3 separate regions of the Homo sapiens genome follow, and all the other regions are linked to region 2. Evidence: fine-mapped expression QTL. A gene starts in region 2. Each other region holds a variant in brackets. All regions are shown on one strand. Distances are from middle to middle.

Region 1 (11,098 bases), 28 kb before region 2:
CATGACCATGTTTACTTTCTGCACACACACATGTGCACACACACACACACACACACATACACACACACTCCACATTATCTGTTAAAAGACCTGGATGTGACTCCCAGCCTCACCACTTATAGGCTCAGCCTGTTTTCTCATCGGCAAAATGGGAATAACAATAGGACCTGCTTTACCTCCTTCTCTTCCTCCCCTTTGGGTGGCTGGGGGAATTGAAAGGTTAATAAACGTTATAGAATGCTGCACATATGCCAGATTTGTGAGTGCAGAAGGGCCCCAGGAAAGAAGACCATGAAGATCGTACTGGCTTTGCAAAACTTCTTAGACATGAGCCATGGAAGAGGCTTGAGCTAAAACTAAAGGGCAGGTGAAATTTGGATGGGTTCAGGGAGAAGAAGAAAGTATTTCAGGTAGAGAGAGGACCACAAAGGTTCAGAGGCTGGACAAACAAGCTGCTGCACTCTAATGAGGGGGAATGTGAAGCATGTGCTCCTAGAGTGATAACAATAATAACTATTTATTGAGCATTTATGTGCTAAGCCCTTTGTTGTTTACACGCATTATCCTCTTTAATCCTTGCAACTACCCTACAAAAAGGTTATATTATTATCTTTCTTTTATAGTTGAGGAAACAAGCTTACAGGAGTCCCATCTGAAGCTCTGGCACTCAGATTTTAGAACCCAAACTCTTACCTACTATGCAATTCTGCTCCTGAATTCTGATTAAGTGCTCAGATAATAAAAACTGGAGTAAGAGGCAGTAAAGTCAGTAGTGAAGCACAAAGACTCTAGGGCCAGATGGCCTTGATGCCAACCTTGGCATCTGTTTTCTATTCCCTTTATTACTTTATTACTTGGGTAACCCTGGACAAGTTCTTCAGCCACTCATCAGCCTCAGTTTCCTCATCTGTAAAGTGGGGATAACCGAGTTCAACTCCTATGGTTGTGAAAATTACGCAAATGATCCATGTAATAGGGCTCAGAAATATGCCAGGCACACAGTAAGCAAATGATAAACAGCCATCATTATGGCAATGGACCGGCTGAATCTTGTGGTTGTGATTCTACTAGGTACTACATCAAATTCTTTATGAAGGCAGGGGATGAATCAACCAAAAAAAATCAAATCTTCTCCTGAATAACTTACCTAAGGAAGATGCAGAACCATTATTCGAGCCCAGAACTTGCCTAACTTCAAAGAGGACAGAAGTGAAATTACTTTGGAAAAGAAATCTCTCTTCCAATGACTCCTGACTCCATCTTTTTCCATCAGGAAAAAGAGTCCAGATAGGAGTGACCTTGGCAAAATTAGGATTAGCAAACATAGTACCTTCCATTAGGATACTTGATTTCTTCCTATGACAAACTGTGGGTCACTTTGAGTCACTTAGCTTCTCTGAGCCTCAGTTCCTCACCTGCAAAACGGGGAATAATGATACTGACCTCTCAGAATTGAAGTGACAACTAACTATACATTAAAAACTAATATTTTGGCTGGGTGCAGTGGCTTATGCCTGTAATCCCAGCACTTTGGGAGGCCAAGGTGGGTGGATCACAAGGTCAGGAGATCAAGCCCATCCTGGCCAACATAGTGAAACTCAGTCTCTCCTAAAAATACAAAAATTAGCCGGGTGTGGTGGCAGGTGGCTATAGTCCCAGCTAGTCGGGAGGCTGAGGGCTGAGGCAGGAGAATTGCTTGAACCTGGGAGGCAGAGGCTGCAGTGAGCCGAGATTGCACCACTGCACTCCAGCCTGGCAACAGAGTGACACTCGATCTCAAAAAAAAAAAAAAAAAAAAAAAAAAAGAACTAATATTTTTTAAAGTGTTGTAGATTTATTCATTTATACAACCCTGAAGCTGTATTAAGCACCCTACATGAATAATGGCATCTTCTCACTTTGCAGTTCTTCTCCCGGTCACTAAACAGGATGTGGTCATCTGGTCCTCTGGGGTGAATTTTGCCATCTTCCCCCATTTGAGTCTAGGCCCAAGGGTTCAGTTTGAAAGAGGCTTCATTAGTAACTGGATAATTCTGTGGGAGGCCCCCAGCAATGGTTCGACCCTGCCGGGGAGTAATTCTAGGAAGGTAATGTGAGCTGGGGGAGGCTGGAGACCCAGCTTCACATTTATTTACTTTGACAGCTAAATTGGTGAGCAAGGGGGAAATCAGATGAAAGCCATTTCAGAGTAAATACTAAATACGAAATTTAAACATTCAGATTGTGACAAATGAGAAAGGGACAATGGGAAGAGACACGGCAGCACCCCCCTTCCAAGCCTAGGACCTACCCTCACCCCATCAGCTTCCTAGGTATTTCCTGTTTGAGGAAAGAGCACAGAATGGGGTACAAACTGTATGACCCTAGGCCGGCAATTTACCTCTCCTGGCCTCAGTGTCCTTGTTTGCAAAATGCGCGTGTGAATCAGCGATGTGGAAGTGACGGAGCGAGCCTGGGCGTAAGATAGACCACCAACCCAGCCCAGCCACTTCCTGGCACGCTGAACTTGGAAAAGTCACTTATCTGAAACACATTTTTCTTAATATCAATATCTGGGAACAATATCAATCTCAGAGGAGTCAATAAGATAATCAGTGTGAAAGGGATTTGAGAAGCACAAAACTCCGGGGCCAGATGGCCTTAATGTCAACCTTGTCACTTCCCTTTATTACTTGGGTAATCCTGGAAAAGTTCTTCAGTCACTCATCAGCCTCAGTTTCCTCATCTGTTAAGTGAGGATAACCGAGTTCAACTCCTATGGTTGTGAAAATTACGCAAATGATCCATGTGACAGGACTCAGAAATATGCCTGGCACACAGTAGTCAATCAATAAACATTAGCCGTCATTGTGGCACGGGCTCTCTGAATTTTCTGTTTGTTATTCTACTAGGTACCACATCAAATTCTTTATGAAGGCAGGGGACAAATCAAAGCTTCAAAGTATATGGCAAAGCAATATTGCATACCTCAAAGCATATTGCAAATGTGAACAATTATAGTTACTGGAAGTCCCCTTCCAGGAAGCTCTGACATTCGCTAAGTAAGTTCAGGTCAGCAGACATTTGTGAAGCATTTACTCCATACCAGGTTCCACACTAGGCCCAGGAAATAGAGGAAGCTGTCCTTGTCCCTGCCCTTGAGGAGCCCACAGTCTCTTAAGAGAGAAGAAAGCCAGCAACTCAGTGCAGTGTGACAGGTGCTACAAAGGGTGCTATAGAAGCAAGGAGGAGGGTCACTTAACCTGGCTTATGGGTGGTGGATCAGGAAGGCTTCCTAGAGGAGGTGACGTTTCAGATAAGTCCTGAAGGATGAGTAAGTACAGACAGGCAAGAGCAGAAAGGAGTTGGACCAGGATAAAGAGTGGCGGCCCAGTTAGTGTTTGCTGGGGCAACAAAGGGAGATGAGGCTAGGGAAGTAGACAGGAGCCAGATTGTGGGGAGCTGAGTGTTGACGAGGTTAGATTCATCTTGGAAGCTGGAGTCTACAAGCCTACAGTGACACAGGAAGCAGCATCCTGCAGGAGTTGCACAGCACAGTGGTTAAGGATTCCGGGGTTGGAGCCAGGTGGCCTATATTGATAACCTGACCCTGTTACACACTGGTTGGGGGGCCGAAGGCAAGTCACAAACTCTATGAGCCTTAGTTCCCTCAACCGTAAAATGGGGATTAATAGATAACCCATTGACAAGTGCTGTGATGATACCAGGAGACCATGATGCATCTACGAGTTAAGTTCTTGGCCACCAAGAGACATTGTTATCACTGTTACCACTAAGAAGATGAGGTAATGGTCACACAGAAGGCACTAGCTAAGTGGGGATCCTCAAGGTGCTAGATGTTCCCTCCTCAGAGAATTCTACCCTGACCACATGATTGAAAATAAATCTCCCGTATTAATCTTTTTCCAGCAGAGGGTAGATACAGCTTACACATAGCCTCACAAATAGTCTTCTATAGAATGCCAAGGAATTTCAACTTCAAAATAGGAACTATGAGGGGCTTGTCAGCATGGAGATGACATGGTGAAGTTGGAGATTTGGAAAGATGACTTAAGTAGTTGGTTTGAAGATAGATTTGAAGGGGTAAGTACTTAATTGATTGCAGCAATACTGAACGTTTATTAACTAGTAATCTAAGGGAGAAGGAATGAGGCAGCTGCAGGAACAAGGAGGATGAACAGAAATAAAATAATTAAAAGTTTATTATTTTACTTTATTATGTTGTATATCATCATATACATATCTACAACACATCCAGTTTTCTAATCATCTTTTTTTTTTTTTTCCTTGAGGCAGAGTCTCGTTCTGTCGCCCAGGCTGGAGTGCAGTAGCACCATCTCGGCTCACTGCAACCTCTACCTCCTGGGTTCAAGTGATTCTTATGCCTCAGCCTCCTGAGTAGCTGGATTACTGGCACGTGCCTCCATGTCCAGCTAATTTTTTGCTTTTGCTTTTGTTTATTTGAGACAGAGTTTTGCTCTTCTCGCCCAGGCTGGAGTGCAATGGCGTAATCTCGGCTCACCGCAACTTCCACCTCCTGGGTTCAAGCGATTCTCCTGCCTCAGCCTCCCAAGTAGCTGGGATTGCAGGCATGTGCCACCACGCCCAGCTAATTTTGTATTTTTAGTAGAGATGGGGTTTCTCCATGTTGGTCAGGCTGGTCTCCAACTCCTGACCTCAGGTGATTCGCCTGCCTTGGCCTCCCAAAGTGCTGAGATTACAGGCATGAGCCACCGTGCCCAGCCAATTTTTTGTATTTTTAGTAGAGACGTGGTTTCACTATTTTGCCAGGCTGGTCTCAAACTCCTGGCGTGAAGTGATCTGCCTGCCTTGGCCAAAGTGCTGGGATTACAGGCGTGAGCCACCACGTCTAACCAACTTTACATATTAAGGTTATATATAGAATCATATATATGTAGTATATATGGTATAAATACATACAAATGTATCATATATGATATCATCAGCTATATAACATTTAGGAGACTGGATATAGGGAGTGGGGGAGTGGAAAATGTTCAAGATAACTCTCAGGTTTCTAATAGTTTATTTTATTTTTCCCAGTGACACAGAACATGGGAGCAATTGAGGAAGGGCAAGAGGGATCCATGAGCTCGGTTTTGAGTCAATGTACCAAGGGAATATTCAAGTGGAAGTGCCCAGGAGTGAACGGGACATATGGCTCTGCAGCTCAGAAGAGAGCCTGGATCTAAGAGAAGGAATTTCAGAGATATCAGGGTAGGGATAGCAGCGGAAGCCTTGGAAGTGGAGATTTTACAGCAGCTGGAATTTACCCCATCTATGAGAAGAGAGTTGGCTTGTTTGCTTTCTGGGAGGTAATTTGCCCCTGAAACTCATCTTACTTTTGGTGAGAATCGTTTTTTAAATTATAAAGCACATTATATGTAGTGATAAGTGCTAAAACAGACCCAGGTCGTTAAGACGCAGAAAGGCAATTAACTGCCTTATAGGAATGAGCATGGGTGGGAAAATATCTGTTAGACAAGTGGTGGGGGTGGGCAGAAGGGACTTCCCAGGTAGAAGGCACATCTTGTACAAGGACAGGGGAATCCAGGAGAGTCCATCATGTTTAGGGTGCACAAATAGTTTAGTCTGGTTAGGAGAATGCCTAGTGGGACTGATTTGTAGAAGGCCTCATAAACCTGGCTTATCCTATGG[T/G]TCTAGGTATTTGGAAGTATCTTAACTCCTTACTTAGATTAAATCTTAATATCTCTCACTTTGGGGCTTTGTTCTTTGTTCAACGTCCCCCTTAAACCGTTTACGCAGCTTATTAAACATCGTTTGGCCGCTCAGCTCGGGGGGAAATCACCTATGTCACCATGTCCCATTCCCAGCCTGGTTCCCATCCTCTGGTGTCTTGAAGCTGCTGAGTCGTCCCTTTATCACGGTACATCACAGTGCACAGGGCTCCTGCCTCATCATCTTTACACCCTCCACGCATCACACATGGCAAATGCCATCTGTTTCAGGAATGAGTAACCTTCCTTCTGATGAGGTCGCCCACCAGAAAGCTTCTCAAATGGGATAGGCCTGTTTTCAGAAGAGGAACACATAACTTGTTTTTTAAGGTGAAAATTTAAAATTATGCTTCTAGTTTAGAAAAGTCACAGGGCATGTAAAAATTAAATGTCATTCAGCATAATCAGTAATCTTAGCCAAGTTTAAGATTGAATGCAGAGGAAAGAAGACACAGACCTGCGTACTCGGATAAATTCTGACAGATCTGTTTTTTTTGGGTTTTTGTTTTTTTCTTTTTAACCTGGGATTCAAGAGGTCTCTCCAGAGACCACAAGGAAGAGCCTGCTTGAGAATGAAACCAACCCAGAGGAAAACACAATCAAGAGATAGACAGAATCCTAACCATTTCACTGAACACCTGGACTTCTCAGTTACATGAACCAATACATGTTCTACCGCAAGGGAGTTGGAGTAGTGTTTTTGTCACTTGAGCTGGGAGTCCTGACAAATCTGCTTACATAGCTGGGGCTACAAGTCTAAATCTGAAGCCCAAGTTCTTACGGCCTTAGTTTCCTCACAGGGACAATGAGAGGATTTAGCCCACATTGATAGCCTTAAGCAGTACAGTGATGCCACTAGGGCTGGCACAGCCAGTTCTCTATCCCAAAAGATGTGTAAGGGGTCAGAGACATTGACTAAGAAACAATATTCGGTGCACATCATTCTGACATCTGTTGCTTTTATTCTCTGCATTAATACGAGAATTTTAGAAAACACATTTCCAGTCATGGAATATTGTTTAGAGTAGGGTTTGGCAAATTTTTCCTGTAAAGGGACCGATAGTATATATTTCAGGTTTTGTAGGCCACAGTCTTCATTGCCAACTATTCAACTCTTCTATTATATGGGGAAAACAGCCACATGTAAATGCCTGGGCATGGTTGTGTTCTAATAGTTATTAACATACACTGAGATTTGAATTTCGTATCATTTTCATGTCACAATATAGTATATATATTTTGTTTACTTTTTTTCTCAACCACTCGAAAATGAAAAAAAAATCATTCTTAACTTGTAGGCTATACAAAATTAGGAGGCAGAGGCCAGTTTGCTGAACACTGGACTAGATGTTTGCAGGCCTGGGTTCTACCTAAAGCTCTCCCATTAACCAGGTGACCCTGGCCAAATCGCTTTGTCTCTCTGGGTTCCCGTTTTCCCCATCTGGACAATGAGGGGGCTATATGAGATGGTCTCTTAAGGCCCTTTGGCTCTCAAATACCAGAATTCTTGTAGTTTATCCAACAAATATTTATTGAGTATGTATGATGTACAGCCATTGTTTTAAATGCTGAGGGTATAGCAGTGATATACAGTTCCTGCTTACATGAAACTTACATTCCAATAAAAAGAGACAAAAAAAAATTTAGATATAATGTTGGTTAGCGGTAAGTGCTTTTGAGAAAATCGTGAGGAAAGGATTGGAGAGTGACAGGTTGTAATTTTAAGAGGGAGGCCGGGGACTGCCTCTTGATCATTAACATTTGAGCAGAGACATGAGTCAGGTGAGAGAGCGGGCTCTGCGGCTATCTGGAGAAAGAGCGTTCTAAGCTAAGGCAACAGCCAATGTAAATGCCTTGAAGTAGAAGCTCCCTTGTATTCAAAGAATAGCAAGAAGGCCAACGTGGCTGCAGTACACCGCACAAGGGGAGAACAGTAGGCTATAGGGTCAGACACGTAGTGAAGGACAGGTCATTAGGGCCTTACAGATCTTTCAATTTTTTCTAGGCTGTGATGGAAAGCCACAAAGAAGAGAATCACATTTTAAAATAATTTTTTTAAAAATTGCTTTGGCTACTGTGTGGAAAACGGACCCTAAAGAATCAATAGCAGAGGCAGGGAGATAATTAGGAAGGTATTGTAATAGTCCAGGGAAGAGATGATGGTGGCTTTAAGAAAAATGGTGGTAGTGTTGGAGGTGGTGAGATGGCTGGATTCAAGAGGCATTTGGAAGGTAGAGTTGACAGGATTTGTTGAAGAACTAGATAGGAGCTGGAGAGAAAAAGAGAAAACAGGGATAAGCATGCTGGGACTAAATCATATTTTAGGAACAAATGATTACATATAGGAAATGTTTGACATTTAATTTATAAGGCAAGAATTACTCCTGTTCTTTTATGTAGTAGTATAAAAGAATCACAGATATATTTGTTGATTCAGAAACTGTGCATATCTTAATAAACAAGAGACAGAGCTGCAGAATACCTGGTTTCATACAACTTGTGCAACTGATTTTTGACCTGTTTTGTTTTTGTTTTTTTTGAGACGGTGTCTCACTCTGTTGCCCAGGCTGGAGTGCAGTGGCACAATCTCGGCTCACTGGAACCTCTACCTCCTGGGTTCAAGCGATTCTTGTGCCTCAGCTGACATGCTTTGAAAAATCTTTCCTCATGTGATACTCCTCCCCAGTACTAAGATACCAATTATAGAAAATCAACTGGTTAGGATTACATTTTGCATTTGATAAAATAGGAATTGAGATGAAGAAAATAGTTCATACGTCTCTCCTCAGTATTTCCTTCAATTCTTCACTCTTGTATATAAATCAAAATTATAAGTGACATAATTTTAGCAAACCAAAATAACCAGTAAACCAAAGAATAATTTTACTTAAAGTACAGACAACCTCCTAACAAAGAGTTGACCAAGTTAACACCTGAAATTTAAAAACCTTTCATCAGACTGCTTTCAGCATATTTAGGATACATACATTTCTTCTTTTGAAATCTCTACCACGAGAGACTAAACACAGTACGATACTTGCAGAGATTTCCATTAACAACTTCTTTTCAAATAGTGACATTTGCAATGGAAACAGCTGGTCTCTATTCTCATCTCTAACAACAGAGGTAGGCAGGCATAAAGGGTAAAGAGAGTTGCCTCTCAGTTTGACTCTCTAGCCAGAACCCTCTGCAGAGAAGGCACTTAGAAGAAGCACCCCACGTGGACATGCTGGCCAGAGTCCTGAGTGGAAACAAGCCTGTCAGAGAACTGCAGTCTATGCCAGTAAGTGAACGAGAGAAGATATAACCACACGGACACCGTCTTACATTTATTCACACAGAGGGATAAGAATCAGTACAAATAATAAACAGTGCTTTAAATACAAATAAATAGCTCTGGTTTCTAAAGGAAACAACTCTATATATAATTCTAAGTTTTTTCTAAGTTCCTATTAAAAATAGAAGACTATTTTGCACTATGTAAGTTCTAGTCCACCATAATCCTTTGAAGACTTACGGATAAAATGGTGAATTCTATACTCCAAGAAGTCACCAGAAAAATGGGAGATAATGCTCCTACCTCTCTGAACTATCCCCCAAATAGGAGGAGAGTTACTTGCATCATAGACAGACACAGCTAATACATACAGAAAGTATTTGATGTCTAGAGATATTTAAAAAGATTAACCTTGGGAAAAGTAAAAAGAATTTCCTTAAACCAGTTTTATGAATTCTAAAACCTCCCTCTACTGAAGTTTTGATTCAAATGTCTTAAATTCATTTATACTCATGGGAAGATGTTAAGTTCCTATATTGAAAGCTTCCTCTTGCTAACAACGATAGTGATAAACATTCTGTCATCACCAAGAATGGCACCTGGAGTAACAAAGTGATACATACCTGGTAAAGGAGCAAAGGTGCTGCCCAATTAAACAGTATGTCAAACTTGGCATCAAAATGACCAAAATGTGCTGAAGAAACACATCCCTAAATCTGTTGGTTGACTTATCTTTCTCTATTGTTATATTCAGGATGCTTAGAGTGACAAACATATCTAGAGGCAAGTATGTTCTCCAAGTGAAGAATCATTTCCAAGGCATGCAGTCCTTTAAAACTACCTACCACACAGAGTCATTACAGTCTTGGTGCCACAGTGGCATCTGTTCCATTGACTTTCTGTGCCCACTGCATGTCCTCTCCTCGTCCTGCACAAGATAATGCAATCTCTTCCACTTAGACCGCTACACAATTATTAGAAAATTGTATGTTTGATAGTGACCAATATAGCAATGTTTAGGTTTTCAAAGAAATTTTGCTTTTTCTATTTAGACTGACCATGATATAATTCCAAACAGAACATTCTCATGCTATAAAAACAATCCCATGCAATAAATGTAATTTTAAAAGTCCCATGATAATAGCAACATTTGTTATTATAGAAGGCATGGTTATTTAGATTTGAAAAAAATGGTTGCTATAGAATAAAAGTTCAATTTCCAAATAGAACTTGTGTTGTGGTATAAAATGTTAAATTTGATTCTAGTTTTGTCAACACAAACAATTTTAAGATATACACCATGTTTTCCTAGTTGGGATTTTGAAACAATAAGCATAATTCTTAAACAGATTACTACAACATTTGTTCAAAGAATCAGCTCCTTTTTGCCAAGAACTTTCTCTTTTTCAGTCCAGTTGGAGGGATTGCCGTAGTAAATTCTGGAACAACAGTTCTGAACATGATTTAAAATCTGTCTCTCACTTCCCTCCCTGCCTTTTACTTTTTCTTTATGTTGTAAAAGACACACGAGCGTAGAAAAATGCTCAATTTTTTAATAGATGTTAATATTTTTAGTTTCCTGATTTAAATAATATTTTGTGTATTTGCCTTTTGCTCTGGCACACTATAGAATGTTTCTGGAGTTACAAATCCAAACCAACCAGCCAATTAGAGCATCCCAGGGTTCAAATCACAATTTGGGATACAACGCTATTTATTCTGGATGATGCTCAATTCCATACATAGTTTAGGGAAGAAACATCCATAAGAACATCCAAAAACATTATGTTACCAAATGCTAACATGTGATTGTGCTCCGTTGAATAGTACCATTCACATCTACAAAGTACACAGGCAGACGATTTTAGGTGTGGAGACCAATTTGCTTTTGCTGCTACAGTAATTCACAACCATCATCTTCGAGATTTCCATGCTGTTCTAGAATATGGAGTAGTCCTTTTTTTATCTGGTGGCTTAAAGTAGGAATAAACAGGCGCTGCTGGATACTCTGCATCAGGATTTTCCGCCATCATTTTCAGTTTTGCTTCAATGGCTTTTATCT
Region 2 (11,098 bases):
GCCTGATGTAAAAAGAGCAGAGATATCAGTGGGAAAGTTCTGATTCAATGTTCCTGCCAATGTTCTAATTGAAAAAAACATCCACACACTCCAACTTATGACATAAACTGAGGTGGCAAATGCCCATTTGAACCTTCCCGTCAAGCAGCAGGACACAATTAGAACAAAAGTCTCATTACAGAGAAGTGCAGCCAACACAACCAACGCTGTTTCCACACTTTAGATTTCCATTTAGACAGGCAGAGGTGGGAATGGAAACCACTATGAGCATCCCCTCATAGCCTGGGTTTTGGATGATGGAAAAAATTTCTTTGATGAAGAGACATTAATTGAGAGGTTGGACAGATTCATATACTCACCCTCAAAAGCCATGAACCGTAAAAGAGAACTGAAATAAATGCAATCCACTCTAGGGTCCCTGTGACCAAGATAACATAATATGTGGGCAACACATCTTAAATACCGTCATAATTTCTAAGGGAACTGAATATATTTACATTTGGCTGATATGAGCTTGAGCAGGTTTAAGGAACTTTTTGTTATAATCCTGATTTATAAGGTTATATCCTTTTCTTCTCTTTCCTAATCTTAACTCTCATATATACCTTGTCTCATCTCATACTCAAAGAAGCAGGTTTCCTCATCTCCTCCCTTCACCTTTCGCCCAGGCTGGAGTGCAGTGGCACAATCTCCGTGCACTGCAACCTCCGCCTCCCAGGTTCAAGCAATTTTCGCGCCTCAACCTCCCAAGTAGCTGGGACTACAGGCATGCACCACCATGCCTGGCTAATTTTTTCATTTTTAGTAGAGACGGGGTTTCACCATGTTGGCCAGGCTGGTCTCAAACTCCTGACCTCAAGTGATTCGCCTGCCTCGTCCTCCCAAAGTGCTGGGATTATAGGCGTGAGCCACTGTGCCCGGCCTCCCCTTGTCTTTAACACTATTCTAAAGGGAGTAACTTCTAGGACTGATGATATGCTCAAAACTTGCTTTCTGCCTGGCATGGCGGCTTAAGTCTGTAATCCCAGCACTTTGGGAGGCCAAGGTGGGTGGATCATTTGAGGTAAGGAGTTCGAGATCAGCCTGGTCAACATGGTGAAACCCCATTTCTACTAAAAACACAAAAATCAGCCAGCATGGTGGCGCATGCCTGTAGTCCCAACTACTCGGGAGGCTGAGGCATGAGAATTGCTTAAGCCCAGGAGGTGGAGGTTGCAGTGAGCCAAGATTGTGCAACTACACTCCAGCCTGGGCAACAGAGCAAGACTGTCTTAAAAACAAAAACAAAAACAAACAAACAAACAAAAAAACTGGCTTTCAGCATTGACCTCATACAGGCCAATCCACTCATTGTACTCTGCCACCAACCACCACCCTCCCTCTATCAAATAACTGGCAGAAGGGAAAAACCTCTCAATTTTCTCAGCTAAGAAATTCCTTTTCATCTTAATGGCTGTGATGTAAAAGAGCAGGGAGTCAGGGCAATTCAATCAATTTCGTGAACTCGGGCAAGGTACTTCTGTCTTTCGGGACTTGGTTTCCTCTATGTAGGATAAAAAAGCTGGGTCCCATCAGAGGTTGTCAAGTGTGCTCTATGGAGCCCTGGAAGTTCTACAGAGCCTAAACAGGGATGGCCAAAGAAAGGGTAGTAGTTGACAAAAGATTTTGGTTCCATCTCTTCTCCCTTTTAGTCAGAGCAACTCTGAGCTCTTATTTTATATACAGCTCTGATTATTACTTTTACTCTAAGACAGGGTTCTTCAGATTTAAGAAGTCTGCAAACTGCTTAGCATGGCACTTGGCACTCAAATCATTTAATGAATGAATGAAAACCAAAGGGACATGATTTCTAAGGTTCCTTACAACTCTGACCTTCTATAGTTCTATGGCTGCTTAATATGAATTACAGTCAAGTGGTCTCCTCTGCCTGTTTGCAAAGGTACTGAGACTTCTGCTTGTTCCTTTATTCTGGGTACAAATGTATTCCCAAGGCTGATTCTAGAGAATAATTCCCTAGAGCTACTAGGTACAAGGATTCAAATAGTTGGAAATGGGAGAACGTCTTTGGCAGATAGGAAAAAAACAGGTATATGGATTAAAGGATACCCAAGTCTGTGTCCTTGCAGTAGCAGAGTCCAAATGTAAAAAAAGTGACAAGATAACAGGCTAACAACATCTTATCTCTCCGAAGACACGATGTAAGTAAAAGGGTCTAAGTATATCCCACACCCCTTGAAAATTCTTCTTGACATCATCACCACAAAACATCCCAATATTGTAGGTAAAAAACTAAGGTAACTTAGACTTACTCGGTAATTTTGGGGTCCAGGTTGCCAATCCATAATCGGTGTCCTTCCTGCAGAGAGCCCTCTGAAAGGATGGATGCATTCTCCAGGGGAAGAGTTTTGGTTTCTGCTTCCATCAATGTCTATGAAATACTAAAGGAAATGTGAACATTCAGGCAGGAGGGGAGTAACAATGTGTGAACACAAGACTTCAAATTCAACTCAACAAACATTTATTCAAGGAGGGCATGCCCTCTGGGCAGTCCTTCAAAGGCCTCAGTGATTCCACAACCAGGGCCCCAGAACCAGTTCCCTTGGGACAACTGCTCTGGCAGCCAGGGCACACAAGCTGCCATTTAAGGTGAAAGGGGCGTGGTTCTGTGTGGAGAAACTAAAGTTTTCCTCCTCTGAAGCCAGAGGCTGACTGGGCAGGAGGCCAAAGTCTCTATTACTACATGATACTTCAGTTCAACAACTGTCACCCAAAATAAGCCTTGGAAACCACCAGGAAGAGTCTTAATGGCATTAAAAGGGATGGGTAGGGAAGAGCAGCACTCCATCCCTTTTCCTCATGGAAGAGGCAATATAGCAAAGAGAAGAGGCAATATAGCAAAGAGAAGAGGCAATATAAGAAATCTGTGCGTAGACAGAACTGGGTTTGAAAGCAGGTTGTGTGACTTGATGAACTACCTGAACTTTCTAGGCCTCAGTTTCCTCATTATCTAGAGAGATAATAGTGCTTATTTTATAGAGTTGTTGTGAAGATTAAAGACAGTAAAAAAATCACTAAATACTGTATCTAACAACAGTAAGTAATCAATAAATACTAGCTATTATCATGCTTACTCTTTTGGGACAGACCAGGAAGAAGAGACTAATTTCCTCCTTAGTTATTCAAGTTCCACCATTTGCTAGCTATGTAGCCCTGTGCAAGTTACTTAACAGCTGTTGGCCTCAGTTCCCTCATCTGTAAAATGGGGATAATGCCTCATGAAATTACAGTGCAGATTCACTGAGTTAATACACCTAGAGCATTTAGAACCGTGCATGGCACCTAGGAAGCATTCAATTAATGTTAGCTTAAATTATTACTAGTCTTAGTTCCTGAAATGTCTCATCTCACAGCCAAGGAGAAAAGAGGATTATGATTATGATGGAGACAGCAGTAGAAAGAGCAGAAACCTTGGTGTCAGAAGACATTGTTTCAAATTGTGGCATTTCTTTCTTTCTCTTTTTTTTTGTTTTTGAGACAGACTCTCGCTCTGTTGCCCAGACTCATGGGCGGTGGCACGATCTCGGCTCACTACAACTTCCACTTCCCGGGTTCAAGCAATTCTCATGCCTCAGCCTCCCGAGTAGCTGGGATTACAGGTGCATGCCACTAAGCCTGTCTAATTTTTGTATTTTCTTGTAGAGGCAGGGTTTCACTATGTTGGCCAGGCTGGTCTCCAACTCCTGACCCCAAGTGATCCATCCACGTCGGCCTCTCAAAGTGCTGGGATTACAGGTGTGAGCCACCATGCCCAGCACAAACTGTGGCATTTCCACTGGAAGTTATTTCTTTCTGAGCTTCAGTTTACCCATCTTTAATAAATTTTGCCCTGTTTATAACTTAAGGCTTCGAGGACCAAAAATGAGACGACAGATGTGAAATAAAGCTTTAGGGGCTGGGAGGACAGCAGGCTGTGTCAGAGTTCAGAAGTCCCTGCTAGAGAACACATATCCTATACCCAGAAGTACCTCAGAGGTCAGCACTACAGGAACCATGGAGGCAGTCACAACAACTGCCATTACCTCTTAATCATCTCAGCACACCCTGTAAAGTCTAGCACAGCAGTCCCTAGGTAATTGTTTATTGAATACCCTGCACATGAGGGTATTTTTCTTCCTTTCCCATTCACATCTTTAATCTGTTCAGCAATGTAAGTCAAGCAACTAGGAACTGTTAAACTCTGGGCTATGTACTGAAATAGACAAATGAAAAAGCCACAGCTCTTGTTCTTACCTCCTGGGAGAAAGGTGAAACAGACATAAATTTAATCCCAGGGGAGACACATTTTTGTCTTCCCTCTGCTTTCCTTTCCCCCTACTTTTTAAACAAATCATTCATTCAAAAAATAAATTCACTGCTTCTATTATCTAGGACTTATCCAGTTACTGGAGTCAGAGCAGTGAACAAGCAAGGTCCCTATCCTCTGGATGCTTGTATTTGGAAGGGGAGCAGGACAAAACAAAAGCAAAATAAATAAAGAAGATATAATTAGTGATACATGCCACAAACACAATTAAGCAGGGTGATGTGACAGGGACTCGACGACTATAGATTGAGTGGAGGGAAGGCCTCTCTAAAGGAGATGACATTTGGGACTTGAATGATAGGACATTCTGATTTTCTCATGTCTAAAATCAGGAATAATACCAATAGCTATTAATATTTATTACCACGAAAAGGTACCATGTTTTACTGGTAAGAGTGCAGGCTATGCGGGTCTGGGTTCAAATCCTGACTTTTGCACCTAGTAACTGCACCTTTAGCAAGTCACATGACCTTTCTTTAAGCATCCTCTCGATAGAAAAGCTTTCCTAAACAGAGTTCCTTGTTATTCTATATCATAGCCACTTTTCCATCTTTTTCCTCCTACTAAATGCTAATTCAATGTATTACTTAATGTTTCCTCTTCTATTTCCTTCACTAGAACGTAAGCTCCCACAGCACAGGACCTTGCCAATCTTGATCACGGTTCTATTTCTAGCACTTAAGTACACTGCCTGTCTCACGGTTGGTGCTTAATATTTACTAAATGAAGCAAGCCGCTTCTCCACTCGAAGACTTAGTTTCTTTTTCCTTCCTAGAATGGGTACAATTTGTCGTCTCACGAGGTCGTTGTGAGTCTTAAATAAGACAATTTTGGTGACAGCTCAGAATATGGCTTTTTGAGGAAAGGTAAAGGGTAATAAAAGATCAAGACGGCACGGGACTATCAAAATGCTTTGCGTTTGCAATAGCAACAATCCTTTAGACTACCAGAGTTCACAAAACGCGGTTACATTTGTCTTTCCAGCTGAGCTGCAATAACTCTGGAAGCCAGAAATAGTCATCTGGGGAAAGTGCAATCCAGAGAAGAAGAGACACCTGATCCTAACAGCAAGCGGTGGGGTCATGCCTGGAACCCTGGCTTCCCGATTTCTGGCTGCGAATTCCTACAGGCGAAGGGTCATTACTCGGATTGTTATTTCCGGGCCAGCGACAGGACAATCCGGGGCGGGGCCTGAGATGCAGTCCTGCGAGGGCGGCCTCCTGTAAGACCTCTTAGCGGGCCCATCGCTGAGGTGCAGGGACATGTCGCGGCCGAACTCACCTCGTGGCCTCGGCGTGGTGCTCTCAGCTCATGCCCGGAAACCAGGTCCCGACGCCGCGGTCAGACGGACCTCTAGACGCGTCCGCCTCAATGCCGCCAGCTGCCAGGCCGCCCGTGACGCGTTAAGCCTGCGCCGCCTCCTGGCTTCGTGACGTCACGACGTCCGCGCAGCTGCGGTCGCCGCCGTCGCACGAGTCTTTCCTTAGTAACCTGGGCGATAGCTGGTGAGTGTCCTTGACAGGGCCTCGAGGGGCGCGTGTGGTCTGGGTGCCAGAGACCCTTACTCAGGGACCTCTGGGGGACCTCAGGGGACCAGACTACCGTCCCCGACCCGTTCGAGTCCAGCTTGACCTTTAAGGCTGAGGGCGGGACCTGTGGCATTGGAGCGAGTCTCATGGGGTGGGGGCGGGGCTCCTTTTACCAGCTAGGAATTTAGGGGATGCTGGAGGAACTTACTAAAGAGTAGCCGCACACTTGACGGGAACGTTTGAGTTTCAGAACAATCCCATAGGAGTAGATATTATTATCTCCCATAATGAAGAAACGGAAGCTCACATAGGTAATTTTACCAGGGTCACGCGGTCAGAAAGTGAGGGCGCTTAAATTCAGACCTAGGGCTATCCGACTCCTAAGCCTGGACTTTTAACCACCACTCTGTGCCACCCAGTGGCAAAACAGTTGTCATTTCAGTAGCCCTTCTCCATTTACTTAACCCTGACAAATAGTATTGTCATTTACGTTTTACAGATGAGACGGAAGTCCTGAGAGTTTGACCGATTTAAGGTCACGTGCCTAGGAAGTGCTGGAACCAAGACTCGGAGTTTTCTCTAAGTTTAGTGCCTTTATTTTGTTTTAAACCACACTGTTGCATTTCCCCCCATTTTGGAAAGCTTTATAGTTGGAAAGAATGAAAACCTGATCTGACCCCTTCATTTTATGGTTGAAACAAAATCTACGTAGGAGAAATCACTTGGTACAAGTCACAAGTCAGTGGTAGAGCTGCCGCAAATGCTTTTTGAATACGTGTGATTATGAATCTAAATGGCAGATGGCAGGGAGTGATAAGGTAGGCATACTGGAATCCAGATCTCTTAACTCTTAGGCAAAAGCCCTTTCTCTACCTGTTAAAGTGTCTCATTCCTTCTTTGGCCGTGCCAGGTGCATAATGATTCTGTGTATAGTCAGATACTACAAGTACCTTTCTTTACCTGGTACTGCATTTAGAGAAGAACATCATCTACTATCTCTAAGCAAAAATCTGGCAAACCAGAGACAGTGGAGGCAACGCTGGGAAGCCCAGAACCTACCATAATAGTAAGGGTAGATTCCCATCCGATTCTGGTTTACCCTGGATAAGGAATTTATCTTTCTGGACTTTCACTGATGTATTCATCACATTCACAGTGTCTTCTGTGTTCTGGCAATGTACCAGGTACTGGGGATACAGCAGTGAACAAGAAAATCATAGATTAGTCCTTGTAGTACTTAGAGTCATATGGAGGGAATTAGACAATCAAATAATTACACAAATGTTAGCTTGTATTGTTAAGAATTAAGTGCTATGATGAAGTAAAGGGTGCTATGAAAGCAGACTACAGGACACTTGACCTAGTTGGGCTGTAGGAGATGGCCAAGGAAGCCGTCCTCTGAGGAAGTGATGGTTAAGCTGAAATCTGAAATAAAAACGGAGACAAACAGTTAAAGAGGTGAGGGAAGATCATCAAGGAGATTCAATGGCATGTTTGAAGACCCTGGAGCAGGGGGAGCCCTGGAGAAGTGAAAGATCACTTTTCTTATTTTGCAAAATACGGGTGGTGATTATCACTCTTTAGTTATGAGAACCAGTTAAGATGGTACATGTGAAAGTATTTTATATGCAAGAGCCTGCGTATATGCACACTCATAGAAGTGCTTATGTTATAAGCTAGTATACAGCTGCATTGAAAAGAGTTGCTGGGACAGTAGATAAGCCAGGATTTTGGGTTGGTCATCTAGCCAAAATTAAAATGAACCTTCTGTGAAGAACAGGGAAATCGTTTGAGACCCTCAACTTTGGAAAAAGAATGTGTGCTTCAAGTAGTTTAAAAAAATATTTCAGTCTGTAATCTCAGCACATTGGGAGGCCCAGGCGGGCGGATCACGAGGTCAGGGGGTCGAGACCATCCTGGCTAACACGGTGAAACCCCGTCTACTAAAAATACAAAAATTAGCTGGGTGTGGTGGCGCACGCCTGTAATCCCAGCTATTTGGGAGGTTGAGTTAGGAGAATGGCTTGAACCCTGGAGGCGGAGGTTGCAGTGAGCCAAGATTGCGCCACTGCACTCCAGCCTGGGCGACAGAGTGAGACTCCGTCTCAAAAAAAAAAAAAAAGAAAAAAAATTCAGGCCGGCGCAGTGGCTCACGCCGGTAATCCCAGCACTTTGGGAGGCCGAGGCGGGCAGATCACCTGAGGTAAGGAGTTTGAGACCAGCCTGGCCAACATGGTGAAACCCCATCTCTACTTAAAATATATAAAAGTTAACTGGGTGTGGTGGTGGGTGCCTGTAGTCCCACCTACTCAGGAGGCTGAGGCAGGAGAATCCCCTGAACCTGGAAGGCATAGGTTGCAGTGAGCTGAGAACGTGCCACTGCTCTCCAGCCTGGGCAACAGAGTGAGACTCTGTCTCAAAAAAAAAAAAAAAAAAATTTAATAGTTGGGATGCTATTATAATAGCTACAATTTATTGTGTACCTACTGGATGCCAGGCATTGTACTGTGTGTATGTGTTTTGTTAAGTGACTAGGTCTCACTATATTGCCAAGGCTGGCCTTGGACTCCTGGCCTGAAGTGATCCTCCTTCCTTAGCATCCCAAGTAACTGGGACTATAGGCACCCATCACTGTTCCCAGCCATGCTGAGTGTTCTATATGCATTGTATAGCAGTTAATAACATAGACTCTAGAGCTAGATTGACTGAATTCAAATCTTGGGCAGATTTTTGCTTCTGTTTTCTTATCTGTAAAGTGGGAATAATCATAGTACTTACTTCAGGGTTATCATGAGGCTGAAATGAGTTCATGTGCATAAACCACTTAGAATAGTTTCTGTCACGTAGTCATTGTTATATAAATGTTAGGTATTGTCATTATTGTTATCTTTTAAAGTCTCATTAATATCACTATGATGATGATGTGGAAGCTGTAGCTCAGAGAGGCTAAATGACCTCCCCAAGGTCACACAGCTAGTAAGTGGGGGAATTGAGATTCCAGTTCCAGACTGCGTCCAAAGCTCAGACACTTCCCCACATTGCTTCTATGTATAGGTTAATTTTGTTGGCTCATACTTGGGATCTCAACAAATTTTTCTTCAACTTTAATTCTTTATCTGTGCTGAACTGAATGTTAATTTGTATACCCTTAAGGTAAAGGACCTAAAGGACTGCTTTTATTGAACTTCCACTTTGAAATTTCTTGACTTCTGTGCAATTAAAATCTACGCCTTAAGCATTTCAGCGATGTGGTTTATTTATAGAGTTGTCTTCCGGTTCACGTGTACTGGGTCTGCTTTTGGGTGCTGCGTTTTCTGTCAAAGGTTGTTTATTTCTAACCCATTTTGATTTCCTGTTGCTTTGTGAGTTGGTATTATGACCTGCAACAGGAATACCAGGAAACCTGTCTTAAATGGAGCAGCCAGATTGAGACCCTGTAGACTAAAATAAAATCTACTCATTATTCTACAGCCATATTTGGTTATAAGTATGAGTTAGGCATTGGTTTTATTAGGGAAAAACCTAGATATAGAAACTTCACTCTGAGCCAAACCTCTGTGAACAGTTCTGCTAAAATAGAGCTTGGCTATTAGCTCCATGTCCTTGGACAGTGACTTAATCTCTCTGAACCTCAGTTTCAGCATCTGTAAAATGGGGATTATTATACGTTCTTTGTGGCATTATTGAGAGAATTAAATGAAATAGTATGGTTAAAGCAAACAGTCCAAACTTGACCTCAATTAATAGTAGCTATTGATACTAGTAAAGAAGAAAAATATTCCCTTTTTTCATCAAATCTGGTTTTATAGACTTCATACACTGATCACTAACTTCTAGTATCCCTTACTGTTAAAAATTCCATCGCGAGAAATGATTTGCCTTTGTGCTACTCATTTGCTTTAAAAATAATATCCATCATTAGGCCGGGTGCGGTGGCTCACGCCTGTAATCCTAGCACTTTGGGAGGCCGAGGTGGGTGGATCACGAGGTCAGGAGATCGAGACCAACCTGGCTAACAAGGTGAAACCCCGTCTCTACTAAAAAATACAAAAAATTAGCCGGGCGTGGTGGCAGGCGCCTGTAGTCCCAGCTACTTGGGAGGCTGAGGCAGTAGAATGGCGTGTACCCGGGAGGCGGAGCTTGCAGTGAGCCGAGATCGTGCCACTGCACTCCAGCCTGGGCGACAGAGTGAGACTCTGTCTCAAAAAAAAAAAAAATAATAATAATAATAGCCATCATTCATTAAGCTGCTATATTCCTGGCACTATGTTAGTTGTTTACATGTATTCATTATTAAATTTTATTTTAAGTTCAAGGTTATTTTTATCATTGATGAGGAAAGTGATGCTCAGAAAAGAAGAGTAAATTGCCTAAAGTTGAAATTTACATCCAGGTCTGACTGATTGTAGGCTATTTTGTACATCATTAATAACATACAAGGTTTCTTTATTGTGTCTGACCCTGGCATAAAAGTTTTAGAGGCCGGGCATGGTGGCTCACACCTGTAATCCTAGCACTTTGGGAGGCCAAGGCAGGTGGATTGCCTGAGCCCAGGAGTTCAAGACCAGCCTGGGCAACATGGTGAAACCCTGTCTCTACTAAAAATACAAAAAAATTCGCTGGGCATGGTGGCATGTGCCTGTAATCCCAGCTACTTGGGAGGCTGAGGCATGAGAATTGCTTGAACCTGGGAGTGGAGGTTGCTGTGAGCCAAGATCGTGCCACTGTACTCCATCCTGGGCAACAGAGTGTGACTCAGTCTCAAAAGATAATAAAGATAATATTTTTTTAAAAGTTTGAAAAAAAAGGTGATAGCTATCAACAGGTATTATTTTGGGGGGCTCCTGCTGTTTGCTAAGTACTGTGTCAAGGGCTTTACTTGCATAACCTCATTAATTATTCCTAACCCTAAGAAATGAGTACAATTATTCCCATTTTATAGTTGAAGAAATCAAGGAGCAGAAATATTCAGGAATATTTAGTCAGTAATGGAGCTAGGATTGGCTTCCAGGTCTTCCTGACGGCAAAGCCCATGTTATTCATTCCATTGTGTTGGATCAAAATTTTAGGATGGGATTTAAAAAAAAAAATAAGGTGTGGGACTGTTACTCAAAGGAAACAGCTTCCAGGTATTTGATACTAATTGTTCTTAATTTTTACCTGAGCCATAGCAACATTACTGGCAGAAGCTATCAATGATATATTT
Region 3 (11,098 bases), 67 kb after region 2:
AGCCTCCCAAATTGCTGGGATTACAGGCATGAACCACTGCGCCCGGCCATATAATTTTTTAGAAGGAGAGAGGGGAACTATTCATATTCTGATGTTTGCTTTTTTTTCTTACCCTGTAACAATCATGGTCATCTGTCCATGTGTGTACATAATAGATACAATTTATTATTTCATTGTGATACAGTATTCCATAATATGGGTCTACCATAACTTAATTCACTATTAGCCCATGACACTATTTAAAAATTATTTCACATGCATTGGAGAATGTTTAAAGATGATTTTTTTTTTTAAGAAAAAAGAAAGGCCCCTATTCTAAGATTATCTGATAAGGTCTGCTCTTTCTCCTTCAACCTCAGGCTAACATTTATTGAATGCCTACAGTCGGCCAGGTTCCATGCTAGACCCTTTACACGTGTTCCCACATTGAAACTTCTGATGAATCCTTGTTAATGTAGGTGTTATGATTATCTGTGTTTTTCTGTGAAAAAAACAGGTTCAGAAAGGATATTTAACTTGCCCAAGGTCACACAGGTAGTAAGTGCTAGAATGAAATTTCAAACCCACATCTGACCTTGAAGTAGGTCCTTAATCAGTGTGCTTTGGTTCCCAAGTCTTCGCTGAACACTTACTCAAAAGGGACCTCGCGCTGTTCTGGACCTGGACGGTGATGTGAGAGAAGCAGAAGTCTTGCTTTCATAAAACACATAGCAAGCTGTTCCTAATTAATGACTGCAAGTAAAATAGCATAGTACCTGGCACATTGTAAACACCAAAGAAATGGTAGCTCTTATGGAGACAGTAAAGATTACATATTAATCCCCCACCTGTTTGGCCAACTTCTCTAGAATATGTCAGAGAGCAAGCAAAATGTTCACCAAGCAGTGAATAATGATAATAATAACAACAATAACAGTATTGACAGATCAGTAACTAATATTTGCTTGGTGCTTTTTAGTTTTCAAACTGCTTCTACATTCTTTGTTGCATTGAAACCACTCAGTGAAACTTTGCGGTTAGACAAAGAGTGATCATAAAAGCTTGTATCCTCAAAAGCCACTTTGAGGCTTTCTTTTGCCCTAATAGACGGTCATTTTTCATGATGTGCATTTGAAATGATATGTTCCCTATTTTGGGGGTACAAATTTTGATATGTATGCAGGAAATGTAGCTTATAGAGTATGTTGTTTAGGTTTTCCATTATTTTTTGACCCTTTGATGAGTCTTGGACTGAAAGTGGTGTGTTTCAGACCCCTGCTATTAACATTTCTGTTCCTTCTTGCATTTTCTGCTTTATGAAAATGGATTCTGCTTTGTGAAAGTACTGCTGTGTTGTTTTATACATAGCGCTCCAGACGCTTACATCTTCTTTATTTCATTCAGTGCTCTTAGTCTGAATTTTATCTTGTTGTATATCAGGATTACAGCTCTTGCTTGCTTTTTGTTTACATTTGCTTTCCCCATTTCTTGATTTTTAAGCTTTCAGAATCACTATTTTAGGTGTTTCTTTTTTTTTTTGGAATTGGGTTTTGTTCGATGAACCATTCTGAAACTCCTTTTTTCTTATTTTTATTTTTAATTGTAAAATATACATAAAATTTACTCTCTTAACCATGTTTTTTTTTTAGACAGGGTCTTGCTCTGTCACTCAGGCTGGATTTCAGTGGCATGATCTCAGCTCACTGTAGCCTTGACAACCTGGGCTGAAGCAATCCTCCCACCTCAGCCTCCTGAGTAGCTGGGATTACAGCCACGTGCACCGCCACACCTGGCTAACTTTTAAAATTATTTGTAGAGACAAGGTCTTGGCTATGTTGCCCAGGCTGATCTCAAACTCCTGAGCTCAGGTGATTCTCCTACCTTGGCCTCCCAAAGTGCTGGGATTACAGGCTTGAGCTTCTGTGCCCAGCCTTAACCATTTTAAGTGTACAGTTCAGTAGCATTTAGTACATTTACATTGTTGTACAACCATCCTCCAGAACTCTTTACCATGCAGAACTGACGCTCTATACCCATTACACAACCCCAGTTCCCCCTTCTCAGCCCCCAGCAACCACCATTTATGAATTTATAAATTTGATTAGGAACATCATGTTAAGTGGAATCATACAGGATTTGTCTTTTTGTGACTAGTTTATTTCACTGAAGCATGATGTCCTTAAAGTATATCCATATTGTAGCATGTATCAGAATTTCCTTTCTAAGGCTGAGTAATCTGTTGTATATATGAATAAGTATATATAAAGCTCCTTTTAACAGACACTTAAATTCATTTACATTTATTTATAATAGTGATATGTTTAGTAGAACCCATTTACTTTTTCTTTATTTTCAGTATTAACATAAGTGATTTGGTGTTTTAGCCCTAAGCAGATAAAGGATTAGAGATTAGAATGAGGAAGAGGGTTGCTTCACATAGACGAAGTTCAGTTTTTGTGGAATAAACAAATAAGTGATTATCTCTGTCTGCCTCTTTGTCTCTCTCTCTCTCTCTTTTTTTTTTAATAAGAGATGAGGGGTCTCCCTATGTTGCCCAGGCTGGACTTGAACTCCTGGGTTCAAGTGATCCTGGAACTGCAGATATGCACAGCTGTGCCCGAAGATCCCTTTCTCTTACATTCCTTTCTTCTGGTCTGTGTTTCAGTCCATCCTACGCTGTTAAGTTAGAACAACCTGAAACAGCTTTTATCATGTCACTCTTCTCTCAGAAACCTTCATTGGTTCCCTGTTGCCTGCTGAATTATGTAAACTCTTCACCCTGGCATTCAGTAACTTCTGCAATCTGGGCCTGATGTATTCCTTTAATTGTGATGCATCTCTTACAACTACCCTGATACCACCAGTGCTTAAGCGAAACGGAATTATTAGCTTTTCTGAAAGCTAATAATTTTGTGCTGCTTTCTCTCACCTTCAAGCCTTTTCTTAGGCTATTTTCTTTGCCTAGTGTATGCTCCCTTAAACCACTTCCCCACCAGCAGGCAAAACTTACCTAGTCTTATAAGCCCTTCTTGGTCCCATGTTCTTCCTTACACTAACTCATTCATTCATTATCCATCCCGATGCTTCTCCTGATTCATTCATTCATTATCCATACCGATGCCTCTCCTGATCCCTAAACCTGCCTATGCCTATTAAGCGCTTGGATTTGCCTCAAGCATCTGACGTTCAGCTACCCACCTGCGTTTCCTCTCTCAGGAAAAGCCTCACCATCCACCCAGGTGCCAAGCCAGGACACTGGGAGCCACTTTTGCCTCCCTGTCCCTCTCCCCTCATCCAATAAGTCACCAAGTCCTGTCAATTCTCCCTTCAACAGACCTTTCCTTTCCTTCCTGGGCACACCCTTGAGTGGTGCTCACCAGGGAACAGATGTGGCAAATGTTCCAGGCTGGCCTCACCCGGGTCTCTAGACACTTGGCTCAGAGGCAGAACATGGCTAACCCTAGATAAGCCTTGTGTGAATTCCTGGCAAGAAAGTCCCCTGCTGTCTTAGTCTGTGCATTCTCTGACTAGCACAGTATGTGGCGAGAGCAGGTGTTGAGGAAATGTTTGTCTAATTCTAAGGGGCCTGCCAGGCCTTGATACAAATGGCGTCACATTTACATGAATAACCCAGAGTTTCTCTAATTATCCTCACCTGCCTGCCCAGGACCTTCAACCTCATCTGCTAAGTCGGCCTCAGGCGTTTCTAGACATCTTAAGGGACCGCATGGCATCCAAGGCCACTGGCATCTACTGTACTCCCCTCCCACCGGCGCTTCCCTTTGCTAGCATCTGCAGCCACAAGTGACACTTAAGGGAGATTTACCTCCACTACTGGGAGTGTTAGTGTCTGTGACAAAAGTGCTGGTTGCTGGGCTGAGGGGGTCTGAGCATGCTGGGTGGAAGCCCTGAAGAGGAAGGGAGAAGGTCTCTGCCCACATCCCACATTTGCCGTGCATCCCTGAGTTCCAAAGCAGCCTCGCTAGGCTCTAGAGCCCCTAAATCTCCAAAGACAGCAGCTCCTCCGCGAGCTAGCTGCCCCTGACCGAGGCTCACAGCTTGCCTAGGGGAGGGCAGGGCAAAAGTCCCTGCTATTCTCTTCCTTTCCTGGCTCAGGCCTTGATCCAAATAGCTCCCTTCTTCCAAGACACTACTCCCCAGGCCTCCTCTTCCTGATAATAATAGTGGCTAACAAGTTTTACTAGATTTTAGGCAACTCAAGGAGCTAGCTGTTATTTTGTTCATTCTACAAGTGAGGAAGGAAGCACAGACAGTGGTTAAGTTACATGTCCAGAGACACACAGAGGGCCTAGTGCAGTAGCTCATGCCTGGAATCTCAGCACTTTGGGTGGCTGAGGTGGGCGAGTCACTTGAGGTCAGGAGTTCGGGACCAGCCTGGCCAACGTGGTGAAACCCCATCTCTACTAAAAATAAAAAATTTAGCCAGGTGTGGTGGCGGGCGCCTGTAATCCCAGCTACTTCGGAGGCTGAAGCAGGAGAATCACTTGAACCCAGGAGGCAGAGGTTGCAGTGAGCCAAGATTGCACCACTGCACTGCAGCATGGGCAACAGAGCGAGACTCTGTCTCCACACAGAGGAACACTTGGCATCAGGGAGTCTGTTGTCTGACCCGCAACTAGGCAGCCTCATACATTATTTTCACTAAGAGACCAGTGGGGCTGGAAAGGGACTTGTGAGGTGCTAAGTAGCCAGTGAGAGCTTCTGGGTCCTGTCGCAGTTTTGCCCTTTCTTCCCTCAAAAAAAGGTCTCTCCACTTCTCTGTGGGAAAGGCTTGGGCAAGTTCTCTGGTTTCCAATGAGGCCAGAGAACCTGTGCTGATCCCTAACATCTTCACCCATCGGGGGCAAAATAAGTAAAATAAAAGTAATGTAGCAAATGTTTTTATAAAAGTGTTAATTTAAATTAACGGACTATTACCTATTCTTAGAGCTTTCTCTTTTGTTTTTGGCATTAAAATATCCTTTCTATTATAAAATGATAAGTTGGTGATTCTTTAGAAATCCTTATTTAGAAAAAATAATTGGTCACATTCTGTGGGTTCCTTTCATTCTGTTTTTTAACTTCACAGATGTATGAATCCCAAAGTCTCGGAGCTATGGGACCTCACGCCTACTCCTAGTTCTGATGTCCCCGAGGCTGTCATCCAAGGGAAGCTGGAGCTGTAACTAGGGAGAGAAGCAAGGGAGGGAGGTGGTTTGACCTGTGTGGGTGTCGGGGACTCCTGGGTGAGTGAGCAGTGGCAGTGAGGCAGGGGTTGGAAACAGGACAATAGTCAATCAGAAGGGTTGAGAGACCCACAAGGGAGGAGGGACAGGTTGGGGGAGGTGAGTCAGAGAGAGGAGAGAGACAGAGACGGGAGATACAGGGACAGAGGGAGGGAGATAGAGGCAGAATCAGAGACAAAAATAGGAACACACACGCATGCACACATACAAACACAGAGATCAGCACATGGAGACAAAGACACAGAGAGACACCCAGGAAGAGAGATGGAGACAGTCCCAGAGACAGAAAACAGACAGGGACAGTGAGAGTCAGAGACAGTATCATCTGTAGAGATACTCCAAAAGAGATACCCACTAAGACAGAGACTGAGATAGAGACAGACACAGAGGAGGACAGAGAAGTACACACAGAGAAGGCAACAGAAACCAGGAAAAGAAACAGTTTAGAAAGAAGGGAGGGGAGGGGGTTTTCTACTTGTTCGAATCCCACCCCTCCCTCCGTCTCTATGCAGGGGAGCTGTTTTCTTCTTCCTTCTTTCTTGCCTGTTAAACTTTTTGCTCCTTAAAACAAAAACAAAAAGAAAGAAGGGAGGGGAGCAGAGAGGAGAAGACAGACACACATATAGGTGGAGACGGAGTGAGGCAGCTGGAGATGTAGGGGAGAGGGAGGGTGAGCCAGGCCTGGTGGCTTTGGGCAGCCCCAGGTTCTGGCACAGGGCGTGGGTAGAGGAAGTGTCGCATCAGCCCTGCCGGGGCTGCAGGGACTAGATAAGGATGCCTGCCAAAGGAAAGCAGGGGAAGGAAAGACGTTTACAAATCCCCATAGGGGCAAAGCCAGGGAGGCTGCCCCAGGCCCAGAGAACAATGGGTACTTGACTTCAGTGGGTCATTAATGAGACAATTAATGGAAAGAGTAACATAGGCCTCCCTGAGGAGGACTTGGAAAGTGGTTAAGTGGAATTATTGAGGACTTGTGGTGGCTCTGAGTGGGGGGCCTTTTCCCCCACAACCCAGATGTCCAGTGTGCCAACTGCACCTCCCCTGCTCCTCCAAATATGCCCGGTGCTCCCTCCGCCCTGGACCCCTGCTTTTCTATCCCTATGCATTTGCTTCTGCCACATTCTCTACCTGGAATGTCTTCCCCTTATTACATCCATCCATGGAAACCCCACCCTTCAGAGGGTAAGTAAACGTGATACATCCATACGGTGCAGTGGTCAGCCAGGGCCATATGTTTCAACAAGAATAGGGCCCTCAACACATGATGGGCAGTGGAAGAAGCAAGCAGAGTCCTATTACAGCATGATGCTATTTATACGAACTGGAATTACACAGACACAAAGCAATTCCTTTAAAAACGATGCCTACTTTGCATTATAAAATGTTTTAAAAGGGCAGGGGGGATTGTGAGGGATACTGGCTAAATTCCTAACGGTGATTGACACTGGGGAGTGGGGGGAAGATTTAAAGTATACCCTGAAGTCATCGTGTGTGTGTGTGTGTGTGTGTGTGTGTGTGTGTATGGATATGTACATGAAAACTTGACATAATGTTAAT[T/C]TGGAGCTGTGAAAATAGGTGTGGTTGTTAACCTCGTTTTCTGTTTTTATTTCCCCTGTACTTTTAATTTTTTTTTTTCCAGAGAGAGAGAGAGATTCTAGCTATCCTCCACACCCACCCCAAATACCTCCGACTGCAGGAAGTCTTCCAGGAATGCATCCACCAATCAGACACGGTCTCCCTTTTCCCCTTGTACCAAACTCTCAGGGCTCTTAAGCACTTTCCCCCTCGCGGTTCCCCTTGTGATGTTCATGGACTGTCTTCCCCATTGAATGGGAGGCCCTCAAGGGCAGGGACTTCCAGTACAGAGGTATCTGAGACTGAGCCTAGGTCTTCCACCCTGTTACTGCAGGAGGCAAACCAGGAAGGTGCTGACCATTTCTCGGTTCCAACACCCACAATCCACTACGATGTGGGGAGGTGGGAGGGTGGAGCTCCTGAAATTCAAAGCACGGCTTCTAGAATGAGGATCTACCTCTAGTGGGGAGCTGCTATTCAAAAATGTTCAGGGAGGAAGGAGGAAGTCTTGTTTGCTGTGGCCAAGGAATCGCTTTGTTGCTTGTTAGCTGGTTGGTTGTGGCCACATTGCTAACAAGGCCTCTAGCTAGCAGCGTTCCCCAACCCATCCTAGTGGGCTAGAGATGCATTATAACCCCTTCCACCCAAAGCTACAGATTAAAAAATAGACCCAAATTCCAGCACCCCCCAGCGAATCCCAGCTGCTGGTTAAAATGGAGCCATTGTTGGCCAGGCACAGTGGCTCACACCTGTAATCCCAGCACTTTGGGAGCCAGAGGCGGGCGGATCATCTGAGGTCAAGAGTTTGAGACCAGCCTGGCCAACATGGCAAAACCCCATCTCTACTAAAAATAGAAATCCCTCTAAATTCCTCCTGCCCTTTTAAACATTTTAGGCATCATTTTTAAAGGAATTGCTTTGTGTCTGTGTAATTCCAGTTTGTATAAATAGCATCATGCTGTAATAGGACTCTGCTTGCTTCTTCCACTGCCCATCATGTGTTGAGGGCCCTATTCTTGTTGAAACATGGCCCCAGCTGACCACTGCACCATATAGATGTACTGCGTTTACTTACCTGCTGAAGAGTGGGGTTTCCATGGATGGATGTAAAATATGGGCATGGTAGTGGGTGCCTGTAATCCCAGCTACTCAGGAGACTGAGGCAGGAGAGTCGCTTGAACCCGGGAGGCGGAGGTTGCAGTGAGCCGGGATCACGCCAGTGCACTGCACCCTGATTGACAGAGTGAGACTCCATCTCCAAAAAAAAAAAAAAACTAATTCTCCAGCCCCCAGTGAATCCCAGTTGCTGGTTAAAATGGAGCCATTGTAGAGAAGGAAGGAGAAAGGACATCAGTCCCAGCCCACCCATCCAGGCAGCCACTACTCATGGAGCATTTACGCGATGCTTGGCCCCTAAGCCACATTATCTAACTTCATTCCCACAACAGCCCTTTGGGCTTAGATTTTTAGCAAACGGGCTCAGAAAGGCTAAGTGCCTTGCTAAAGTCACAGATGCAGTGAGTGTTGGAACTGGGACTCCCATCTGACCTGTTAGGAGGTGGATGTGTCTTGGGTCTGCTATAGCTCTTCCCACTTCTAGACAGCTCCATGTTTTACAAGTGGGATACTGAAGCACAGAGAGGGGAAGAACTCATCCACTGACGACACAGTCAGTGAATAGCAGAGCTGGGACTTGAACCCAGATTTCCTGATTTCCTCCCTGCTCCTTTGGCTGCCCAGTGGAGTCTAACAGACTGCAGGTCAGACCGCACTTTGGGATTTTTAAGCTGCCGGGGTTTGAGATGTCTTTAAGCCTTCATGGGGCAAAAAATTGCAGGGTTTGGGGAGCAGAGAAGGGTCTTAGAGATAATCTAGTTTGGCGCCCTCTTTGTAGTGATGAGGAATTTAAGGCCTAAACAGGGCAAATGACTCACAAGAACACTTTGATGTCAGAAAGTCCATGCCAAAATAAGCAGCCTCATGATCCACAGAGTCCGTTGGAGTCTCAGAACTGACTGACTACAGCTTTAGAACCTGTGTTAATAATAGGTAACTTGGTATCAAAACCCAGAGCAGATTGGAAACTATAAATTACAATGTGGAGAAGGGCAGCTTTCACACAGAGATGTCTGTTGAATGAGGAATACACAAATGAATGAATGAATGAATGGACTGCCAGGCTGATTTCTGGCTTCTACCTCACTTCCCTTCCTCTCCTCTATCTCTTGCCGTCAGATTAATAACCTTAAAACACAGCCTAGGTAGGGCGCGGTGGCTCATGTCTGTAATCCCAGCACTTTGGGAGGCCGAGGCGGGCCGATCACCCGAGGTCAGGAGTTTGAGACCGGCCTGACCAACATGGAGAAACCCCATCTCTTCTAAAAATACAAAATTAGCTGCACCTGGTGGCCCATGCCTGTAATCCCAGCTACTCAGGAGGCTGAGGCAGGAGAATCACTTGAACCCGGGAGGCAGAGGTAGCGGTGAGCTGAGATTGTGTCATTGCACTCCAGCCTGGCAACAAGCGAAAACTCTGTCTCAAAAAACAAAACAAACAATAACAACAACAACAAAAACACAGCCTTTGCTATAACATCCTGCTCAAAAACATTCAGTGGCTCCCCCTTACCTGGATGACTGAATAGCCTCCTAACCAGTCTCTCTGTTCTTCATGCCTGGCCCTCTGATCCGTTTTCTCCAGAGGGTAAATTCTTCAAACGCAAATCAGGCCACTAGCCTTCAGAGGCTCCCTATGACCTCCAGGAAAAAATCCAAAATTCTTAACCCAAGGTCTTAACTGCAAGGCTTGACCATCTCTCTGACCCCATCTCACCCCAGCCTCTCCTTGCTCTGGCGTCTCTCAGCTCCCCACCGGTGGCTGTCACTTCAGGGACTTTGCACGTGGTGTTCCCTCTGCCTGGGACATTCCAGGCCCTACTGGCCTTGCTAACTTCTATATGTCCGTTAGCTCTCAACCCAATGTCACTCCCTCCGGGCAGCCTTCCCTGACCTCCCCAGATTGGGTTTAGCAGCTCTGAGAGCCTCTGGTCTGCCCCCAGCACCGCACTATCCCATCTGATTATATGTAACGACTTTCGCATCTGTCTCCTGCCCCAACTGTGAGCTCTGAGAAGGCAAGAACTGTCTCATTCACACTGCACGCTCAGTCCCCAGGATGAAGCCTGACACACACTGTACACTCAACAAGTATTTGCTGAATGCACAAATAAATACATGTGGCTTCCTAGTGAAACTGATGTAGCCATTCAACAAATATTTAAGCATCTTGGTAGATACTTGTTGAGCACCTACTAAGTGCCAGGCATGGTTCTCCACACTCCACAGGGTAAACAAACCATCACAAAGTCCCTGCCTTTGTGGAGCTCACGGTCTACTTGGGAGAGGCAGGCATTAAATCCATAGAGAAATAACTTAGTGCCAGGCATAGCTGAGTGCTGTGAAGGAAAACAAAGCAGGAGTTAAAGAATTGGGAGGGTGGTGGTGAGGGGGTGGGGGTTGTCAGTTTAGATGGGGCAGTCAGGGAATGCCTCACAGAGGAGGTGACATTTCAGTGATGAGCGAGGGCTTCTGCGAGACACAGACCCTCCCCTGCCTGGGGCTGTCTGGGCCACAGGTGTGTCCAGGTATGGCAGGCCCAGGTCCCCAAACTCTTCCTGCCTCTCGGTTGGAGCAAGGAACCCAGAAGAGGCCTTAGGTGAGGCTTTTGAGGCCGGTGCAGAAGCCTCAAGCTGCTCTTCACAACAGCTGTGATTGGGCTCTTTCTGCATGGCGAGAGGCAGAGATTGCTTTGTGCGCCGAGGGCTCGGCTGATTGTGGTGGGTGCCGGGCGATTGGCACCCACAGACCGCGGCCGCCAGGGTTTACCACGCACCCCCAGCACCGCGGCGGGCCGTGCGCAACGCGCCAGCCCAATCTCGCCTCCTATATTCAGAGTTGATTAGACGCTATTTCTGCCTGGATTTTCAGAAGGCTCAAGAGCTTTTTTAATCACTACAGTGGCTCATTACGGTTTTGCAGTGACACTCATGTCCTTCAGTTCTCTTCTCAGATTAGATTCTATAGTCAGATGAATATTGGATGATTTCATTACATACAAATGCAATCAACAGTTTTGCATAAATTTCTTCTCTTTTCTTGAGTTTCAATTGACCCCAGCACCCATGGTGGCAGGCGCGATCCACATGCAAATGAGCTGGGTTTGCAGCCGAGGAGAGGGGCCGGGAGGAGGCGGGCACTTGCACCAGCCCAGGGAGGCAGCAGCCTTGATTGCTCAGGCT

Evidence for each region. PIP is the estimated chance that this variant, and not a neighbour inherited with it, causes the effect.
Region 1: its variant is the best candidate, but not a certain one, in a credible set for the expression of RBM18 in whole blood (TOPMed, PIP 0.86).
Region 3: its variant is the best candidate, but not a certain one, in a credible set for the expression of RBM18 in whole blood (INTERVAL, PIP 0.89).

What each region holds. Positions count from the first base shown.
Region 1 is chr9:122,230,935-122,242,032 of GRCh38, forward strand. It overlaps RBM18 (RNA binding motif protein 18), which reads right to left. Exons shown (of 6, transcript NM_033117.4): 6 at 6,688-11,098. The coding sequence ends at 10,950. Among named protein-coding and RNA genes, the nearest start is that of LHX6, 7.5 kb to the left of the region's middle. RefSeq lists a silencer at 6,402-6,602. The variant T/G (reference allele first, on the strand shown) is at 5,680.
Region 2 is chr9:122,259,071-122,270,168 of GRCh38, forward strand. It overlaps RBM18 (RNA binding motif protein 18), which reads right to left and starts at 5,770. Exons shown (of 6, transcript NM_033117.4): 1 at 5,645-5,770; 2 at 2,310-2,438. The coding sequence starts at 2,422. MRRF (mitochondrial ribosome recycling factor) reads left to right here and starts at 5,812. Exons shown (of 7, transcript NM_138777.5): 1 at 5,812-5,868. RefSeq lists enhancers at 4,952-5,923, 5,302-6,501, 5,924-6,894, 6,070-6,229.
Region 3 is chr9:122,326,363-122,337,460 of GRCh38, forward strand. MRRF (mitochondrial ribosome recycling factor) reads left to right here. Exons shown (of 7, transcript NM_138777.5): 7 at 1-4,975. Among named protein-coding and RNA genes, the nearest start is that of PTGS1, 39 kb to the right of the region's middle. RefSeq lists enhancers at 10,108-10,713, 10,714-11,098. The variant T/C (reference allele first, on the strand shown) is at 6,783.